4 separate regions of the Homo sapiens genome follow, and all the other regions are linked to region 2. The links come from fine-mapping of genetic effects on gene expression. A gene starts in region 2. Each other region holds a variant in brackets. All regions are shown on one strand. Distances are between the middles of the regions.

Region 1 (5,146 bases), 260 kb before region 2:
TCATTGACTCGGTGCTGCTTCTTGAAAGCAAGCCTCAACCTCTGGTTTGTGTTGGAGTCGCACGGGGGGCAGACCCCTCCACCCACTCCCAGAGACGCTGAGCAGGGCCGCAGCAGGGACCAGGAATCTGTGCTGTTGATGAGGACCGCGCCCCCCCGGGGGACTCCAGTGGAAGCAGCGCATCTGCATTTGCAGCCAAACTGGCCGAGCGCTGCCGCTCTGCCTCCACTGACCCAGTCACCTGCTCCCACCTCCTCCCAAGCCACCCAGCATTTGCCAGCGGCCCGGTAGGAGTCATGGCCCCTGCTCAGGGTGCCTCCCCCTTGGCCAACTCCCACAAATCTGTCTTCACACCCAGACTCAACAGCACCTCCCCGGGAAGCCTTTTCTGACTCTTCCCACTGAGCCACGGGTCTTCCCGTCTAAAGCAGTGGGCCTGGAAAAGGGAAAGCTGGTCAAATACAGAATCCCGGGCTCAATATCCCTGAGGCTAGTTCAGTCACCTGGGGTTTGGCACACAGGAACTGGCCTTTCTAGGTTCCTTGAGAATTCTGTGCCTCCTTCTATTATGACAGGGCTTCTCAAATGTCAACGGGCACGGGAGCCTCCCAGGCATCTGCTTACCGTACGGTGTCTGAGTCAGGAGGTCTGGAGTGGGCTTGGGAATGTACATTTCTGACCAGCCCCCAGAAGACGCTGCCACCACTGGTCAGGGGACCACAGTGGCAATGTACTACAGCCCCGTCCTTGAACTCGACCCCTCAGTGGACTGTGAGTGTCAAGAGGCTATGGGCTGGCCTTACTCATTTTTTCTATTGCCTCTAGAATATAAGCTCTCTGAGGTTAGGGATATTTTTCCCTGTGTTGTTCCTGGCACATGGAATGGTGCCTGGTCCACAGCAGGTGTGCAGTGAACACGTTTGTGAATGAACGAATTTCTCTATCTGTGCATGGTGCAAAGTCAGTGCTTGGCCAGTTTGGCTGAAGCAAGGAAGGAATGAATCAAGCGGCCCCTCACCCCCCAGCTGCCCCGGAGGCACTCACAGCTCAGGGCCAGCAGGCCAGCGTCTGTGACCGGGGTCTCGCACAGGTTCAGCACCTGGAGCATGGTGAGGTGTTCCGACAGGAGCCGAAGGCCAGCGTCTCCAAACTGTAGAGCACAGAAACTCTCAGCCCTCTCCCGGCCACTCCTGGGGAAGTGACTCTGAGGCTGGGGCAGAGGTGGAGGAAAGGGATGGGGACAGAGCCTGGCTCTGAGGCCCATGGCCCACCAAGCCCTGGGGTCTGGGCTGCGTTCACGTCCCCTAAACAATCCCACGCCTCTCTGAACCGGGTTAGAATCCAGCTTCTGCTGTTGGGAGTGGAGCCAGGCCAGGGCCCCCTTGGAGTCAGTTTTGCCTCCATGAAGGAGGGCTTTGAACTTGTCTCTCCCTAGCTTCGAGATGCTGCCTAGGTGGCTTTCTCCTGCTGGGTGGACAGTGGAAGGACAGGGCTGGGCCGGGGGCAGGCTGCAGGGACTGTCCCCAGTTTCTCCTCTGGAAAATTAGGGTGAGGGTAGAACCTGCACTTCACAGGTGTGCAGTGAAGGCCCCTTCATCTGCCCTGTGCAGAGTACTGAGCAGTGCAGTTCACACTGAGCTGGGACTCAGCAGCCACTGGTGTTACTATAACAAAAAGACCCAGAAGCCTCCTGCGCAGCCCCCCGCAGGCCAGCGAAGCCTGGCTCACGTCTCAGCTCTACCTCTCAGAACCTCAGGACTCGGAACTGGGCACATTATTTCCAAATGGGAAATGGGCTGCAGGGCTTCATGAGGTCCTCAACCTCCTCTAGCCTCAGGGAGTGGGTGCTGAGCTTGAGGGAAGGGTCGTGTGGTAAGCAATGCCTGGGGTGTAGGCAGGGAAGCGGGTGAGGGGCAGGGAGGAGGGTGAGGGGGCAGGGAGGAGGGTGACGGGGGCAGGGAGGAGGATGAAGGGGTAGGGAGGAGGGTGAACGAGTTAGGGAGGAGGGTGAGGGGACAGGGAGGAGAGTAAGGGGGACAGGGAGGAGGGTGAGGGGGCAGGGAGGAGGGTGAGTGGGTGGGGGGGTGAGGGGGCAGGGAGGAGGGTGAGTGGGCAGGGAGGAGGGTGAGGGGAAAGAGAGGAGGGTGAGGGGGCAGGGAGGAGGGTGAGGGGGCAGGGAGGAGGGTAAGTGGGTAGGGGAGGGGGAGGGGGCAGGGAGGAGGGGGAGGGGGCAGGGAAGAGGGTGAGGGGAGCAGGGAGGAGGGTGAAGGGGCAGGGAGGAGAGTAAGGGGGGCAGGGAGGAGGGTGAGGGGGCAGGGAGGAGAGTAAGGGGGACAGGGAGGAGGGTGAGGGGGCAGGGAGGAGGGTGAGGGGAGCAGGGAGGAGGGTGAAGGGGCAGGGAGGAGAGTAAGGGGGGCAGGGAGGAGGGGGAGGGGGCAGGAAGGAGGGGGAGGGGGCAGGGAGGAGGCTGAGGGGAAAGGAAGATGGTACGGGGGAATAGGGAGGAGAGTGCAGAGGTGAAGGAGGAGGGTGTGGGGGACTGCAGCAGGGCGGGAGGACGTACCTGAGTGGACCACAGGTTCAGCTGCTTGAGCGAAGGCAGTTTGATGAGGTGCTCGGCGCAGGCACTGGTTACATTGGTGAAGGCCAAACTGAGGTTCTCCAGGTTTCCGAAGGAGCCGGAGCTCAGCAAACGAGCCAAGTCAGCGTCCTGCGGGCAGACGGGGGAGAGGCCTGAGGGTGCTGCTGGGAGTTCCCGAGACCCTGAGCCCTCCTATCCCCTATCCTCCTCCTCTCCCCTCGCCCTACAGAGAGCTGTTCCTGGGGGGCGGTAAATCCCAGGAGCTGAGATGGGGGCACAGCTCGGTGGGATGGGCCAAGGGGGTGGCCAGAGAGGGAGGGGCTGCCACGCATCCCATGGACGACAGCTGCCAGGCGGAGGAGAAAGCCTCCAGTGCTGTGACTCACACCCTGAGGCACCAGCGGGGTGTTCCAAGGCCACGATCCTCCCACAGGCGTCTGTGTGTGTGTGT[GTC/C]TGTGTGTGTGTGCCTGTATGTGTGTATATCTGTGTGTGTCTGTGTGCACGTTTGTGTATGCATGTGTCTGTACATGTGTGTGTCTGTGCACGTCTGTGTATATTTGTGTGTGTGTGTGTTGGTGTGTCTCTGTGTGTCTGTGTCTGTGCATCAGGGTGTGTGACTGGCTGCCTCACTCCTGGGCAGCAGCTCATGCCAACACTGAGGCCACACTCAACTCTAATGCCTGAAGACACCAGCGCATGCCTGAGCACCGGACTGGGAGGTTCCTAAGACAACCTCCACACTCCCCTCCATCCTTGAGTGTCAGCGGCCCTGTGGCTGCCCGGAATGAAGGCTGATTTAGTGTGTGGCCCCACACACTAAATCTGGAAAATGGGATGTAAGTAGACATGTCAAGTAGAACTTCCAGGAAGTTTCTTAAGAGGAAGGGGCACGTTCTCCTTCCTGCTGGCTGGAATGGAGACAAGAGGTCTGGAGCCTGAGCAGCCCTTTTGGTCCAGGAAGTAGAAGCCATGTGTCAAATATAATGGGGGCATCAGAATAGAAGGAAATAAGACCCTTAAAGACCTTGTGAAATGCGAATGGTAAGATACACAAGCTTCCAAGGGTTGCTGTGAGGATAAAACAAACTAATAGAAGAGCATCTGACACACAAATGCTCAAGGTATATCTGCTATTATTCCAAGTACTATTAATAACTAGATATCAACACTATTATCACCAACAATCTGTATCATATTTTAACTTCCTTTTTGGTTTTCATTTCTCTTCCTGTAACCCAGCTACCTCCTGGAAGAGCTGGCGTGTTAAGTACTAGGGGGTCCTTGTGCCCCGCCCTCCATCACCTCCCATCTCAGCAGCAGACACCACCTGCCGTTCCCCAACAGAGAGGACCAACCCACCTTCTCCATCCAGCCCCAAAGAGAACCAAACCAACTCACTGTGGACTTGGAGGGCAGTGTTAGCCTGGTGGGCCCGCCTTTCCTTTGCTGCAACAGAAACCAGGCTGGTTACAACCATTCTTTTCCCCAAGTTTCCATTCTAGACTTCCACCTCTGTTAACAACACTCATGGAGCCATCGTTATTTTCTTGGTGGTACAAGGCAACACGGTGGTCTTGGTCTCAGGGGCAAACCCGGAGATGAGGTTTGAGCACAGGTGGTTTACTGGAGGGTGATCCCAAGAAACACCAGTGGGAGAGTGGGGAAGTGACACTGTGGCTACCTATAATGGAAGGGGTGTTATCAATCCAGCTATCACTGGGTGGGTACTGGCACCAAATCCCACCGGGGGACTCTAAGAAATGGTGGAGAAGCCATGTCTCAAACATATCTCACTGAAGGGGTGAGGGAGCTGGGGTATTTCTACACACTCTCCCCAGAAGGGACTGGTTGAGGGCTGCTCCAGGAGATCAGAAGGCATGAATTTCCTGCCCCTTCCGTCCTTCTGTGTACACATGTGTGAGTATATGCATGTGGACATACAAAGTCCTTCAGCAAAGAGGTGTGGGTGCTGGCATTTGGAAGTTGGGTCCCCCATGTACTGAAATGGAAGGGTCTAAGGGACATGGAGGAGGGAGGGTGGGCAATGTCCTGGCCAGGCCCCAATGAGCTGTGTGACTCTGGGGATTGCTTTGCTTCTCTTTGATTACCTGAAAAGTGGCAGGTGGTAATACCAATTTCTGGGGTTTGGAGGAGAATTCAACGAGATTGAGGTCCACTCAGGTCCAAGTACTAGCTGCCCCGCATCCCGCCCTGGCCCCCCCTGGCCTGCTGGGCAGGGGAGTGGTCCGGAGCAGCCGGGGACTCACCAGCTCCTTCAGCTCCCGCTGCCGGTCACACAGCTGCTCGTACATGCGCTTCCCCACGTCTGTGCTCTCCAGGGTTGAGATGATCTGCAGTTGGGTGTCGTTGTTGTCGATGATGTTGTATTCCAGCATCAAGCACAGGATCTGTCCAGAACCGCAGGGGTGCATTACGGACCCGGCCTGCCACCCTAGCTCAGCACACTCTGTGCACCCCAAGGGCCTTGTTTTGAAAACCAGCAACCCCACTATCCCCTTTCTGCAGCCCCGGCTGTGTAAGCCTGGGCAAATCACCTGCCCAACT
Region 2 (5,146 bases):
AGCAATCGGAGGTAAGTGGGGAGGCATTAGCCTCGAGAGCTGGCTTTCCGGAAACAGGACGGTAGCAGCGGGACACTCACTCCTGGCTTCTCCCAGAGGGAGAAGGGGCTCCTCCTGGCCTTCCCATGGCAGGTCACTGTTCCTTCTAACCATTTTCCTACCCCACCACCAACAACCCTTCATTTTGTGGAGTGTAAGAGGAAAAAAAAAAAAAAAGCCCAATAAAGTCCCCCTGAGCCAGGTGAAAATTCTGAAGCCAGATCTGGGGTCTCCAGAATCCAGGCAGGGGGCACCGCGGTCACCAGTTCCTCCCCACATCAGAAACACTCCGTACTGGCAAATTTTCGGAGGCTCTCTCCCGCCTCCATCCATTGGAAAGCCAAATGCTGCGGCCTGTGGCGCGGGACGGGCTTGAGAACATGCACCAGCCTGACCGGGGACTGGGCCGCCTCCCCGCGACCAGCAATCCTCCCTGAAAAAGGAGTCTTTGCAGATATTGCACCAACGTGCCCACAGGAAAGAGAAAATAGGTGCTCTAAGCATGTCGGACCCCAAATTAAGAATAAAAGTCCTCGAGGGCTGCAACGCTCTGGGGTGGGGGGTGGGGGACTGGTTCAAAGAGTAGGATTCTTCAGCTAACTTTTCCCCCCTCCCCATTCCTTGGGGCATGTGTCATGGCCTGTGACACACCGCCAAGGGAACATGGATGCCAGGGAAATGTCTACACACGCTACACGTTTGTGACATGCCATGTAAGCGACACCCTATTTCCTGGCTGGGTTTTCTTGGCACAGGTGTGGGCAGGCAGTGGATTCGGCCCCCTCCCACTGCGCTTAGTAAACAGGATCACGGTGGCCCCAGGGAGGAGTGTGCATTCTGGGGAAGACAAGCTACACCCCCAATGAGGATGGGACCCCCACGGCAAGCCTCAGGCCCAAGCCACAGCCGGTATTTGAAACTGTCCTTGTTTCAAAACACAAAGCATCCTGTTCAGGCTCCTACCCGCCACCCCCACTCTCCCCTCGACCCCACCACAGCTGTCTTTCTCCACGTACGAAGAAGGCCACCATTTGCAGATCTGATTTCAGAAACAGATCAATGGTTTTTCCTCTCCGACTCATCCAGCTGACCCAGTCCTACCCATGTATTTAAAAACAATAACAAAATTAAACCTCCAGCAACAAAACACACACGTATACACACACTCTACAGACAATGCCGGACCAGGGCTCCACCAAGCAGCTTCTAGGCTAGAACTCGACCACCGCTGGGTCCTGAGATATTCCAGGACCACTGCCCCCTCCCCCTCCACTTCCAACCTCTCAATGTGCGAATGAGATTTTCAGAAAGGGAAGCACCCCGTTCTGCCTGCCAGCCCTGGCAGGAAAGAGAATAAAGGACGGGTAAACCAAACAGAGAAACTGGCTTCTGGAAATTCTTTGGGTTTGGGGGTTTGGAGGTTTTGTTGTGTTGTTTGTTTTTTTTTTTAAATCTGAGGGGTGGTATTTTGTTTTCCCCTCCCCCACCCCTCAGATCCAGATGGGCCAGGGGCTTCCAGAGAGAACCCCCACCACCATCAGGGCCCAGCGTCGGGTCCATCCTCGAGTCCCAGCCACCAGAAACACAAGAGCTGGGGGCAGAAGGTCCCCAGGCACCCAGCCTGGCGGTGGGCCGAGTCTCCAGCATTTTAAGGGTCTCTCCTGAGCCCGGTCGGCTGGTTTGGGCTTCAGACTCCAAAATCGAGCCCCGCGAGCAGGCCAGGAGCGAGGCGCCCTGGTTCTCCCCGTTCCCCCGGCACCCCCCACCGCCCCCCAGGCCCTGGGCTCCAGGTGCAGCGCCAGGGGGCAGCCAGGGAGGGCGCATCTCGGGCCCCGAGGAGAGGCGGGGGTGCAGCCGCGCAGAGCCACTCACCGTGGCGGACGCCAGGCTGTTGTCGGCCAGCGTTAGGTGGTGCGGCTCCCAGCGCCTCAGGAATTTCGAGGTGAGGATCTTGCTGAGAAAGGTCCGCGGGTGCCGGATGACACAGACCTGAATGTCGCCCTCCTGCAGCAGTTTGTACCTCATCCCGTTGCAAAGCAGAAGAGCCCGGCGGCAGGGCACGGCGCCCATCTTCGTGCCTTCGGGGGCCGACACGTCGCCCCCCAGCAGCGGCTTGGTCTCCTCGATCTGCCGGGGGTCGCCGCCGCCGCCCGAGCTGCTGGTCACATCCATGGCCGCGCCGGGGGAGGGGGCTGGGGGCGGGGAGAGGGGGCTGTCCTGGGCTGCTGGGGCGGCGGGGCCCCCGGATCCGGCGGCCCGCACCCCCCCACCCCCCGGGAAGGTGGGGGGGTGTGGGGCTGGGGGCGCCCGCAGGGGAGGGGGCGCTGCCCGCGGGGGGCGGCGCGTGCGGCGGGCTGGGCCGGCCTCGGCGCTTCCTGCGGGGCTCCGGGCTTCCTCCTAGCTCGTCGGGTGCATGCTCGCGGCGGCTGACCGGGCTCGGCGGGCGACGGGGAGGGGCGGGGGAGGCCGAGGGCGGGCCGGGGCCAGGCGCGGAGGGCGGGCGCCGGGGTGGGGGCGGCGGGGTGGGGGCGGGCGTGTCTCGGGGCCCCGCGCCGCCGCGCGCGTGTGTACAGAGCGTGTGTCCGCGCGGCCGTCCGGGCGAGAGTGGCCGCGGGCGGGGCGGGCCGCGCGCCGGGCTCCCGGAGCCCGGGGCGCCCGCGCGATTGGTCCCCGCAGGGTCATGTGCCCGCCCCTCTGACGTCAATGGCGGCAACGGCGGCGGCCGCGGCGGCTTCGGCCTCTCGCGGGCGGAGTCCGCGGTCCGGGCGGGGTCGCGGCCCACGACGGGGAGGCGCGGCCCGACGGGAGGGGCAGCCCCTGGGGAGGGGGCTGGGGCGGGCGAGCCCCGCGGGGTCCCGGCCCGCCCCGCCTGGAATGTGGGGAGGGGGCGGGGCGCGGGGGCGGGGCGCGTGACGTCACGCCAGCCGCGCCCCCGCGGGTGCCCGGGCGGGAGCCCAGCCAGGCTGCCGGAGCCTGGGGGCCCGCGCCTCACCCACCCCCGCCGCCCCCGGGCCGGACTCGGACGGGTAAAGAAGGATACCCGAGGGCCGGGGGCTGGGTGGAAGGACGGGGACTGGAACCCTCGACCCCTGACGCCCCCTCCGCTGTCCAGGCTGTCCAGCGGGCTGGCCAGATGGGGCCGTGGGACGGGGACGCCTTCCCGACTGAAAGTGTCCCCGCGGTGATCCGGAGGATGAGCCCACCCTGCCCTGTCTCCCACTGCGGGACCCAGCCGGCCTCGAACTCCTGGCCTTTGACGTCTGCTGGCTTTGGCCTTGGGGGTCCTCAAACCTTCTGGAGAGAGGGGACGGTCCGCCCATCCCCCTTCTTTCTTCTGCCCAGGGAGACAGAGCCTCTTCTAGGAACCCACTTAAAGCACCCCCCAACCTACACAGCCACCCCTCTTGTGCGCACCCCAGCAGCTCCCCCTACTTCACCTTCCCTGGGACCCCACCTGGTCATTTTATCTGAGTTCACAGGCCCAGCACCAGCCCACGAGAGAACCATATTCGATTCTCTTGTGACCCAGGGTATCAGGAACTGCAGCCTGGATGCAAAAAGCTCCCTTTCTGCCATCACAAGCAGCCGGCACCTAAGGCCACCTAGCAAATGCTCAGCTCCTCAGCCAGGTTTTCTTATCTCCACGTGCTCCTGCAGCTAATAACGTTAAAACCCTAGATTTTTGCCTTTTTAAGTGAAGGCGCCTCTGTAGTGAACACATGAATGTGTGCAGCGTGTGTTGAACTGCGTCGTGAACACTGCGGAATATCCACAGCATCTGTGCCGTTGGTGGAAATTATTCACCCCCCCTCTCCCAAGAACAGGCAGCATGAAGGTGCTCCCCAGAGGACCCTCTCCCCGAGCCTGGCCAGGGTTTCAGGCAGGGGATGAAAGGCAGGTCCCAGGCTGCATCCCTCACCAAGGAAAGAAGACTCACATCCAGCCTGCCCAGGAGATGCCTCCTTGGGGAGGCACAATTAGATTAGAAAGTTAGAAATTCCTTAGCTCCCCACAATTTGCTGCCATTTCCTTCCAGTTTTGAGCTTGAACAGCCTTGAGAAAACCACCAAGCATGAAGGGGCAAGCCCTAGATATGTGGGTGTTGGGGGGTGGTTGGGGCCAAGAAACCCCCCAGTCCATTAAGCGGGTGGGATTAGATCCTTTGTTCAAATATTTTCATTGAGCTCCTGCTGTATGCTGGTCACAGGCCAGGCACTAGGGTATTAATGGTAATGACTATAATAACCACAGTGGCCAGAGGCTTCCTATGTGCTAAGAATTTTGTACGCACACATCATTCTCTTCTCACACCCTATGACATAGGTGCTGTCCTCATCCTCAACCACAAAGCATGGAGGTCAGAGTCCAGAACAGTAACAGACATTGTGCTTGGTGCTCCAGGAACAGAAAGGGGGATGTCTAACCCAGTGTGGGGGACCAGGGTACTCTAAGAGTTCTTTAGGAATCAAGTAAAGAAGGGGATAGGTGCTCCAAGAAGACGAACTGGCTCCTACCAAGGCAAAGAGATGGGAGGATGCTCAGCTTGTTCAGGAAACTGAACTCACTTGCCATGGGGTGCAAGGTCCCTGGAGGAGGTGGAGCAGAGATGTAGGCGGTGAGCAAGCAGCACCCTGAAATGCAAACCCAGGGACTAGAGCAGTGGGGAGACACCACATGGGCCATGCAAAGGAGTGACTTGTACATGGCTTCTTCAAAAGGCTGCAGTGTGGCACAGATGAGCATTGCAGAGGAGAAACCTAGAGGCAAGGAGGCCAGTGAGGAGACTTTCATGCTCACCTACCCCCCACAGAAGGAAGCAACAAGGGCTAGCACAAAGTCACTGGGTGGAGTGGCCCAGTGGCAAGCAAAGCAGCTGCTGTCCACTTCGGGGACATCTGTGGACACGCCCCTACCCATACAGGGCACAAAACTCCAGTAGAAGGAGGAGATTTAGCAGGATGCAAATCCCTGATATATTCCAGGACCATTCCAGACATCCTCCATGCAGCCCAGTACAGTGGTTGATTTGTAAACATTAAGTAGGACATACCGTGATAATAATGACCGGTACCCAAGCACCAGATACCATGCTGGAGGCCTTATGTAT
Region 3 (5,146 bases), 32 kb before region 2:
GAAAATGAAGAGAGAATGGTGGCTGCCAGGGGCTGGGGGAGGGGGACTAGGAGTTAACATTTAATGGGGACAGTTTCAGTTTGAGAAGATGAGAAAGTTCTGGAGATGGATGGGGGTGATGGTTGTGCAACAATGTGAACGTACTCAATGAACTGCACACTTAAAACTGGTTAAAATGGCCCATTTTATGTTACGTGTATTTTATCACCATTTAAAAAAAGGTCACATGCTGACAGTCCCTCAAGACATTCATTGCCCACCTCAGCTACCTGTAGCCCCCACCTCCTTACCATAGGAGATGACATCTTCCCAGTTTTTCCAGGCGAGCAACTTCGAGTAGCTGACCGCCCTCTTTACAAACAGGATGGAGGCTACGCATGTGTTTTCTCTGTGGGGCAAGGCCAGATTAAGCAAAGAAAACACAGCAGCTCCTTCCCCCTCCCCCCAGGAAAAACCCTGTCCGGTCAATAGCAGAACTAAAGAGCTGGTGCACACTTTCACTTCCCACTCGAGTGCCTGAGGACCCGGCTTCTCCTAGGCGTCCAGCAAAGCCCAGACTTAAAGGTGGCAGGTGCTGTCCTCTCACCCTGCTTCGGGTGAGGACGGGTCTCCAACTGAGCTCCAATGAACAAGACGAGGCTGGGCTGGCTCCAGGAGGCAATTTCTGGCTGGGAGGTGGGGAAGAAAGACCCAGAAGAAGGGCAGGGTGTGACAGAGGGACCTGAATCCCAGAGCCCTGGGTCTCCTGCTCCCCTCCCTGAGTGCCTCTGGATATGGCGCTTCCAGGCTGGCCCTCAACGTCCACACCTATAGGAACAAGAGAACTGAATTCAAGTGGGAAAAGCAAATGGGTTTATCTCAGGTGCCAACTTCTTCCCACCGGGAGGCTCTGGGGTGGCTGCGGCTCTGCAGGGCACCAGGAGGACCAACAAGGGCTGGAGGGTGGAGGGGACCACACATGGTCTGTGCATTCACCATCCCTGCATGAGATCCCTTCCATAATTCCTCAATGGAATTCCATGAATGTGCTTTCTGGATCTAGAACGCACTCGGTGGCCTCCCTGACTGACACATGTCCATCTGACCTTTGCTTGCACACCTGCTTTCTCAGGGAGCTCACTATCTTCTCCGGCAGGCTGCTCCTCTCCATACAGGACGCCAAAATCTCGGCCCTACAACCCCTTCCCAGGAGCTGCTGGCGCCATGCAGAACTGTCGGCTCCCTGTTCTACTCTACGGCTTGCTGATACCTTACCACTCCCTCTGCCCCTGTAAAAGCCTTGCTTCCTTCCACTGTGCTACATGTGAGTGGCTTTCAAAGGATGGCCTGTTCCGGAAGCTTGAGGGAATGCCCACGCAATGTGTCTCCCTGACCAGCCTTCGCCTTCCCAAGAGTGAAGTGGAGACTGGCCCTGGGATACTTTCTGGGGTGGGGGGGAAGGGCAGTGGCAGAGATGGCTAGCGTGGCCCATGCCAACACCCTATTCTGGCCTCCTCTCCCTTCTCAATAATAAAAATCCTGCTGTGGGGTGGGATTCATGGCTCCCACTTACATTTCCCAGATGCTCTTGCAGCCGGGGATGCCACATGATGGTCTGGCCAGTAAGGTGAAAGCAGAAGTCACCTTAACAGGGCAGAAGTCCTTTTCCACTCCCCTGCCACTCCCACTTTCTGCTAACTGGAATGCAAACGAAATGGTAAGATCCCATTTCCCACTAACTGGAAGGCAGGCAAAATGGCAGGAACTTGAGCCTCTCTTGGCCCATGGTGCTAAGAACGGAGGAGCAGCCACATGGAGGGGCCCTAGGCCCTCAAAGCCACAGGCCAGCCACGGCAACCCTCACACGACTTAGACCCTAGATTTCCTTTATACGAGAGAAAACAAACAAGCTTCTGCTGTGTTTAAGCTGCTGCATTTTTAAATATTATATGATCCCGGAGTCTTACATGCAGGAGCAAGGAGTTCTGAGTGCTGATGACGACAGTCCAGCCGCCTTCACACAGGGAGGGCAGCCATTGCCTTCAGTGGGAAAGGAGGGGACCTGGATGCACAGTCCATACCCTGCCCTGTATCTACCCCTTAAGAATTCAGGCTAGGTGCGGTGGCTCACGCCTGTAATCCCAGCACTTTGGGAGGCCAAGGCAGGCAGATCAACTGAGGCCAGGAGTTCGAGACGAGCCTGGCCAACATGGTGAAACCCTGTCTCTACTAAAAATATAAAAATTAGCCAGGCGTGGGTGTGGTGGTGTAA[G/T]CTTGTAATCCCCGCTACTCAGGAAGCTGGGACAGGAAATTACTTGAACCCAGGAGGCTGAGGTTGCAGTGAGCCGAGACCACACCACTGCACTCCAGCCTGGGCAACACAGCAAGATTCCATTTCAAAAAAAAAGAGTTCAGGGCCGACATTTCCAAGCCCGATGTGTATCTTCAAAATCAGAAGATAGACACAACCAGCTGCCATTTTTCAAGCATCAACCATATGCCCAGGTGCTCAGCTCAACGCGGCATGAATTAGCCCCACGAGATAAAAATGGTCCTACTATAGATGAAGCCCAAAGAGGTCCACCAAGTTGAGGCTGAAACCCAGGAGCCCTGACCTCCACGCTGGGGCTGGGGTCTTTTCATTCATCTTCACCGTCTCCTAAAGATCCTTAGGGAGCCTGAGAAGCTGAACTTGGCTGACGTCGGGAAGTAAGGACAAAAGGAAAGAAGGGGTGGGAGGGAGAAGAAACAGGAAATGGGAGAAACTCTTGGATTCCTGTAAATGGAGATTATCTATGAAGATGTTCACTGTGGCATTGTTTACAGCAGCAAAAATCTAGAAGCAATCTAGAAGACCATCAACAGAATGCATAAATAAATATGCCACGGCTTCTTCATACAATGGATCTCATATACAGAAAGTAAGCAAACTAAAAAGGCAAGTTGCACAAGAAGGCCCAAGTAATGATACTATTTATATGAAACTTTACAATCTAGGAAACATGGCCACTCTGCAGACACCGGCGCCGTCGGGAAACCTGTTCTATCAGCCATGGTCAACCCCACTGTGTTCTCTGACATCGCTGTCAACGGCGAGCCCTTGGGCCGCATCTCCTTCGAGCTGTTTGCAAACAAGTTTCCAAAGACAGCAGAAAACTTTCACGCTCTGAGCACTGGAGAGAAAGGAGTTGGTTATAAGGGTTCCTGCTTTCACAGGAACATTCCAGGGTTTATGTATCAGGGTGGTGACTTCACACGCCGTAATGGCACTGGTGGCAAGTCCATCTATGGGGAGAAATTTGAAGATGAGAACTTCATCCTAAAGCATACAGGTCCCGGCATCTTGTCCATGGCAAATGCTGGACCCAACACAAACGGTTCCCAGTTTTCCACACGCACTGCCAAGACTGAGTGGTTGAACGCAAGCACGTGGTCTCCGGCAAGGTGAAAGAAGACGTGAAGACTGTGGAGGCCATGGAGCACTTTGGGTCCAGGAATGGCAAGACCAGCAAGAAGATCACTATTGCTAACTGTGGACAACTTGAATAAAGTTTGACTTATGTTTTATCTTTTTTTTTTTTTTTTGAGAAGGAGTCTCACTCTGTCACCCACGCTGGAGCGCAGTGGAGCAATCTCAGCTCACTGCAAGCTCTGCCTCCCGGGTTCATGCCATTCTCCTGCCTCAGCCTCCCAAGTAGCTGAGACTACAGGCGCCCCCCACCACACCCAGCTAATTTTGTTTGTATTTTTAGTAGAGACAGGATTTCACCGTGTTAGCCAGGATGGTCCTGATCTCCTGACCTCATGATCCACCTGCCTCAACCTCCCAAAGTGCTGGGATTACGGCAGTGAGCCACCACACCCAGCAACTTGTGTTTTATCTTAACCATCAGACCGTTCCTTCTGTAGCTCAGGAGAGCACCCCTCTGCCCCATTTGCTCACAGTATCCTAGAATCTTTGTGCTCTCACTGCAGTTTCCTTTGGGTTCCATGTTTTGTTCCCTTCCATGCCTAGCTGGATTGCAGAGTTGAGTTAAGTTTATGATTGTGAAATAAAAGCTATATAATAACAAAAAAAAAATCTAGGAAACATTATGGAGTGTTCTATAAGAGTATGTAGTTGTACAAGTACAAAAATATGCACAAGAATAAACATCAAAGTCGGGGCAGAGAAAAGGAAGGGTTTGAAATCAGAGAACGGTACATCAGGTATTGCAACTGGAATGGTTTATTTCTTCCGCTGAGTGGTTACACTGAAATATTATTTTATACCCTGCTTTGCATGGCTGAAACAGATCATCATTTTAAAAGCAAAGGGAGAATATGCAGTTTATTGCATGTCAACTTTATCTGAAAGCAATTTTTTTTATGCACCTAGAGAGAAAGAGACAGAGAGAGAAAGAGACAGGAGGGAGGGAGGGAGAGAAGGGAGGAAAGGGTTAAGGCCTCCAGACACAGCATCTTCTCCTCATGGCCCACCCTCCTCTCCAGAGGGCCAGCCATGCTGACCACAGCAGCTCCATTCATGAAGCCACAAGGCCACGGTGAAGAGGGCCACTTAAACTCCATGTTGCTGAAGGCTCCTTAAGTGAAGTGACATCCCAAACCTTCCAAAATGAGTTACCCTCAGGCCTGGCCACCCCCAGAACCACATTCAGTCCACCAGCAGTTCTGCAAAGACAAGCACTGGTCGACTCCCTCCCCGCCCGCCCCCCATGGCTGGAGGCAGGGCAGCCAGGCTGGCAGGGCCTAGGCACAGAGACTGTCCTGGGCTGGCTCCCCTGGCACCAAGGAGGCAGGAAGGGCGTGCAGGAGAGGCAGGACCAGAGGAGAGGGAGCCCCAGGAGGAGGGCGCCATGAGCACGGCCAACACTGAGGCCCCTCCGCAGGCGGACAGTGGTTCCTCCACTTCCCCCATCATTCCCCTTCCACAGAAGTGCGGTGACACGGAAGAGACCACACAGTAAGAAGACACCAGGGGCTGGGGCTCCCTGCTCCTCTGACCTGACTCAGTTCACCCCTGGGATCCTCACGCAGCACCTCCCACCAGAGGTGTGGTCTGAAGGTAGGGAGAAGCCACCATGAACCCCTCACATGAAGCAGAAGTAGTGTGCGACGTGCCTACCTGGTGGCCCCCGGTAAGCACCAGATGAATGGGAGGAAGGGA
Region 4 (5,143 bases), 240 kb before region 2:
GGGTTGAAGCAAACTGGCCAGAGACGGTCTCCAGTCATCATAGTCTGACCTAGAATGAGAGAGGGTGACAGTCAGCTTTGGTTGGGACAAGGAAGGTTTATGGCACTGTTTTTGGTCCCAGATGGGCCAAAAGATGGGGTGAGAGCCTGGCAGGTAGTCAGTGGCACTGACTTCTCCACCCACTTCCACCTCCAGGATGAGCAAGTCAATGTTCTCAGCGTGGCCTCAAGGACTCACAACTGGGCCTGTGCAGAGACTTCCTCATGGCACCCGAGGGGGTGAGCTGTCTATTCCCCAGACTTCACAATGCCCTTTGAACCAAGGCTACGTGATCATTGTTCATGCCCTCTTTGGGACCATTAGGGGGTGTTTTAGGCTGAACTTTGCCCCCCATTCATATACTGAAGCTCTGCACCCCAGTACTTCAGAATGTGACTGTACTGGGAGACACAACCTTTAAAGAGGTGATTAGGTTACAATGAGGCTGTAGACGGATGTCCTTAGAAGAAGAGGAAACACGGACACGCAGAGCAAAGACCAGCCAGGACTCAGCGAGAAGGCAGCCATCTGCAAGCCAGGAGAGAGGCCTCCAGAGAAACCAGCCCTGCCCACACCTTGATTTCAGGGTTGTGCCTTCCCGAACTGAGAGAAATACATGTTTGTTGAGTAAGCTATGAGGTTGATGGTACTTTATAGCAGTCCTAGCAAACTAATGTAGGGGGCTTAGGCTGGGACCCTGGGGCCATTCTCACCTTTCTGTGATCAGAACTGAGGGAAAATTCTATAGACAGAATCATAAACAACAAACATTCTAAGCTGTTTGTTTGTAGTTTGGGTCAAACCTCCTGATTTGTTGGATCCCTTTTTTTTCTTTTTCTAAAATTTATTATTATTATTTGAGACACAGTCCTACTCTGTTGCCCAGGCTGGAGTGCAATGGCACGATCTCAGCTCACTGCAACCTCCACCTCCTGGGTTCAAGTGATTCTCGTGCCTCAGCCTTCCGAGCAGCTGGGATTATAGGCGTGCGCCACTATGCCCAGCTAATTTTTTGTATTTCTAGTAGGGATGGGGTTTTGCCATGTTGGCCATGCTGGTCTTGAACTCCTGGCCTCAGGTGATCTGCCTGCCTCAGCCTCCCAAAGTGCTGGGATAGGCCAGGTGTGGTGGCTCACGCCTGTAATCCCAGCTGCTCAGGAGGCTGAGGCAGGATAATTGCTAGAACCTGGGAGGCGGAGGCCGCAGTGAGCTGAGATCACCCCACTGCACTCTAGCCTGGACAACAGAGCGAGACTCAGACTCAAAAAAATAAATAACTCAAAGTGCTAGGATTACAGGTGTGAGGCACCATGCCTGGCCTTGGTGGATACTTCTATTTTTGCTTTCAGACAACAGCTTTTCTTCTTTTCTAAGAGTTGATGCTAAATACCCAGGAATCCAACTTACAAGGGAAGTGAAGGACCTCTTCAAGGAGAACTACAAACCACTGCTCAATGAAATAAAAGAGGACACAAAGAAATGGAAGAACATTCCATGCTCATGGATAGGAAGAATCAATATCGTGAAAATGGCCATACTGCCCAAGGTAATTTATAGATTCAATGCCATCCCCATCAACCTACCAATGACTTTCTTCACAGAATTGGAAAAAACTACTTTAAAGTTCATATGGAACCAAAAAAGAGCCCACATTGCCAAGACAATCCTAAGCCAAAAGAACAAAGCTAGAGGCATCACGCTACCTGACTTCAAACTCTACTACAAGGCTACAGTAACCAAAACAGCATGGTACTGGTACCAAAACAGAGATACAGACCAATGGAACAGAACAGGGCCCTCAGAAATAATACCACACATCTACAACCACCTGATCTTTGACAAACCTGATAAAAACAAGAAATGGGGAAAGGATTCCCTATTTGATAAATGGTGCTGGGAAAACTGGCTAGCCATATGTAGAAAGCTGAAACTGGATCCCTTCCTTACACCTTATGCAAAAATTAATTCAAGATGGATTAAAGACTTAAATGTTAGACCTAAAACCATAATAGCCCTAGAAGAAAACCTAGGCAATACCTTTCAGGACATAAACATGGGCAAGGACTTCATGACTAAAATACCAAAAGCAATGGCAACAAAAGCCAAAATTGACAAATGGGATCTAATTAAACTAAAGAGCTTCTGCACAGCAAAAGAAACCACCATCAGAGTGAAAAGGAAACCTACAGAATGGGAGAAAATTTTTACAATCTACCCATCTGACAAAGGGCTAATATCCAGAATCTACAAAGAACTTAAACAAATTTACAAGAAAAAATCAACCCCATCAA[A/C]AAGTGGGCGAAGGATATGAACAGACACTTCTCAAAAGAAGACATTTATGCAGCCAACAGACACATGAAAAAATGCTCATCATCACTGGCCATCAGAGAAATGCAAATGAAAACCACAATGAGATACCATCTCACACCAGTTAGAATGGCGATCATTAAAAAGTCAGGAAACAACAGGTGCTGGAGAGGATGTGGAGAAATAGGAACACTTTTACACTGTTGGTGGGACTGTAAACTAGTTCAACCATTGTGGAAGACAGTGTGGAGATGCCTTGAGGATCTAGAACTAGAAATACCATTTGACCCAGCCATCCCATTACTGGGTATATACCCAAAGGATTATAAATCACGCTGCTATAAAGACACATGCACATGTATATTGATTGCAGCACTATTCACAATAGCAAAGACTTGGAACCAACCAAAATGTCCATCAATGACAGACTGGATTAAGAAGATGTGGCACATATACACCATGGAATACTATGCAGCCATAAAAAAGGATGAGTTCATGTCCTCTGTAGGGACATGGATGAAGCTGGAAACCATCATTCTGAGCAAACTATCGCAAGGACAGAAAACGAACACCGCATGTTCTCACTCATAGGTGGGAACTGAAAAATGAGAACACTTGGCCACGGGGTGGGGAACATCACACACCGGGGCCTGTTGTGGGGTTGGGGGAGGAGGGAGGGATAGCATTAGGAGATATATCTAATGTAAATGATGAGTTAATGGGTGCAGCACATCAACATGGTACATGTATACATATGTAACAAACCTGCACATTGTGCACATGTACCCTAGAACTTAAAGTATATTAAAAAAAAACAGAGTTGATGCTAATGACGGTAATAACAATGACAATAACAACAGCAGCTCCGATGTCACGGAGACTTTCCACACACACTGCAGGATGCTAAGGGCTATACCTTAGTTCATTTACTCTTTACAAGAGCACAATAAAGTCAGTGTGACTAACCCCACTTAACAGATGACGAACTGGAGGCTCAGAGGTTTAAGGTCACACAGCTGTGGCATATGAGGAGTCAAATCCAGGCTTCTGTGACAGCAGAGCCTTGGCTCTCACCAGCCCTGAAAGGCCACGGCTGTGATCTTAGCAAAAGCCAACGCCTGCCTGGGTAAGGAAGGAGGGCTAAACCTCAGTGAGAGCAGCTGCGGGAAGCACCGTGCTGTTCACCTGACTTCACTTAACCCTTTCATGAAAGAGCCTCCTTCCTGTGTGCAGAGACAGCGGGAGAGGTCAGTTACCCACTCCGAGTCATCTACACAGCCTAGGAAGGGGTAAAGCTGGACTCAGAACCAGGTATTTCAGGCTCTATCACACCATGGTGTGTGGTGAAGCCAGGCACCAGGGTGTCACCCCCATCCGACCCTGGGAAGACCACTGTCCCACAACCGAACAGTATTAGCACTGCTGATAACGCAGATGCAATTCGCTCTGCGCTGCCTGCGCACCGGGGCTTGAAGTAAGGGCACTGCTTGTGTTCGCTCATGGGATCTACCCAGAGGACCCTGTGTGCTGAGTCCAAATTACGGACAAGGAGCAGTATGGCAATTCACTGACCGTGACCACAGGGCTGTGATACAGCCAGGCCACAGCAGGGAAGCAATAGCTTCGGGAGTTTCCTGAGGCCCAACAGGCTGCTTCCCGACCACCTACCAGCACAGCTTCATAAAGAGGGAGTTTTTTGGCCAACTCTTGCCCCCAAAAGCTGGGAGCGTCCAGAGAACTCGCCGGCGTCTCAGTCTGAGTACAGATGGGCTTGTATCACACAGCAGAGCACTCACACACGGCCCCCAGAGACTGCAGTCATGACAACCCCCATTTTACAGACGAGGAAAATGAGGCTCAGAGCTGTTTGTGATTTCCCACAAGTCACCAGCAAGTGGCTGAGATCTGACCTCAGGTGCTTCAAAGACCATGACCCGTCCTCTCGGCCCCAGCACCTGCACTGTGTTTATAACCAGTTCCCCCACCTGGGTTCCGGATCTCTCTGGCTATAGGGACTCCGCGGAAAAACAAACCCAGAGGTAGTCAGTTCTCGCCTAAGCCAGGCCTGGGCACCTCTGAGGGCCCAGAGCTTAAAACCGTGACACATAAAGTGAGGGGTGGCCACTGGAGCAGTCCCCATCCGAATCACAGAGCTGTCCCTGGTGTTCCCCAGCTTCTGACCATCTTGCCTCGGACCACCCCAGGAGGGGCCCAGGTCTCATCTCTGCATCCCCCATGCTGGGCCCCGGGCTGGGTGGATGGCTGGTGCTTGGGAGGGGACTGCTGAACACAAGGCCCAGTGCACACTGGGACCGGGCCAATGACAGAGCCTGGGGCCTGTGACCGGCTTCAGAGCAGAAGGGATGTTGAGTCTCCATCTGGGGGACTAGCAAGTGCCACCAGGTGCCAAGATCGAGTGGGATGCTGACTTCGATCCTGGCTTGCACTGGGGCAGGAGGTGGGATCTGAACCCTTGTCCAGTGGTCTGTGTTGGGGAGGCGCTGCAGAGAGATGCCCCGCTGACACCTGGGCACCACCCACGGGAGAGGCCAGGGGGTGCTCAGACCCGGGCTGGGCAGAGGGGTGGTCCCGGGACCCCTACCCACATACGACTCACCACAGATACACTGTGTATCGGTTTGCGTGCTGTGTGTCTAACTGTGCCTTACATAGAAACGGGAGGAGATGTTTTTTTCACCAAGTACAAATGTTCACTCCCATCGACAACAGGCGGTTTAGATAACCCCTGAGTGAGGGCTTTTCCTGCCCCACCTTCCTCCAAATAAGCCCACGATAG

Evidence for each region. PIP is the estimated chance that this variant, and not a neighbour inherited with it, causes the effect.
Region 1: its variant is the best candidate, but not a certain one, in a credible set for the expression of CMIP in whole blood (TOPMed, PIP 0.61).
Region 3: its variant is the best candidate, but not a certain one, in a credible set for the expression of CMIP in whole blood (TOPMed, PIP 0.85).
Region 4: its variant is the best candidate, but not a certain one, in a credible set for the expression of CMIP in whole blood (INTERVAL, PIP 0.75).

Annotation. Positions count from the first base shown.
Region 1 is chr16:81,701,503-81,706,648 of GRCh38, reverse strand. CMIP (c-Maf inducing protein) reads right to left here. Exons shown (of 21, transcript NM_198390.3): 16 at 4,849-4,989; 17 at 3,980-4,027; 18 at 2,564-2,710; 19 at 1,045-1,150. Among named protein-coding and RNA genes, the nearest start is that of PLCG2, 75 kb to the left of the region's middle. RefSeq lists an enhancer at 1,468-1,969. The variant GTC/C (reference allele first, on the strand shown) is at 3,033.
Region 2 is chr16:81,442,307-81,447,452 of GRCh38, reverse strand. CMIP (c-Maf inducing protein) reads right to left here and starts at 2,645. Exons shown (of 21, transcript NM_198390.3): 1 at 1,912-2,645. The coding sequence starts at 2,211. RefSeq lists enhancers at 1-341, 342-1,107, 3,272-3,804 and silencers at 1,653-1,952, 2,383-2,432, 2,503-2,852, 2,963-3,062.
Region 3 is chr16:81,474,405-81,479,550 of GRCh38, reverse strand. All of the region lies in intron 1 of CMIP (c-Maf inducing protein), which reads right to left. It also overlaps the pseudogene PPIAP51. Among named protein-coding and RNA genes, the nearest start is that of CMIP, 32 kb to the right of the region's middle. The variant G/T (reference allele first, on the strand shown) is at 2,252.
Region 4 is chr16:81,686,681-81,691,823 of GRCh38, reverse strand. CMIP (c-Maf inducing protein) reads right to left here. Exons shown (of 21, transcript NM_198390.3): 11 at 1-49. Among named protein-coding and RNA genes, the nearest start is that of MIR6504, 78 kb to the right of the region's middle. RefSeq lists enhancers at 85-724, 4,603-5,143. The variant A/C (reference allele first, on the strand shown) is at 2,331.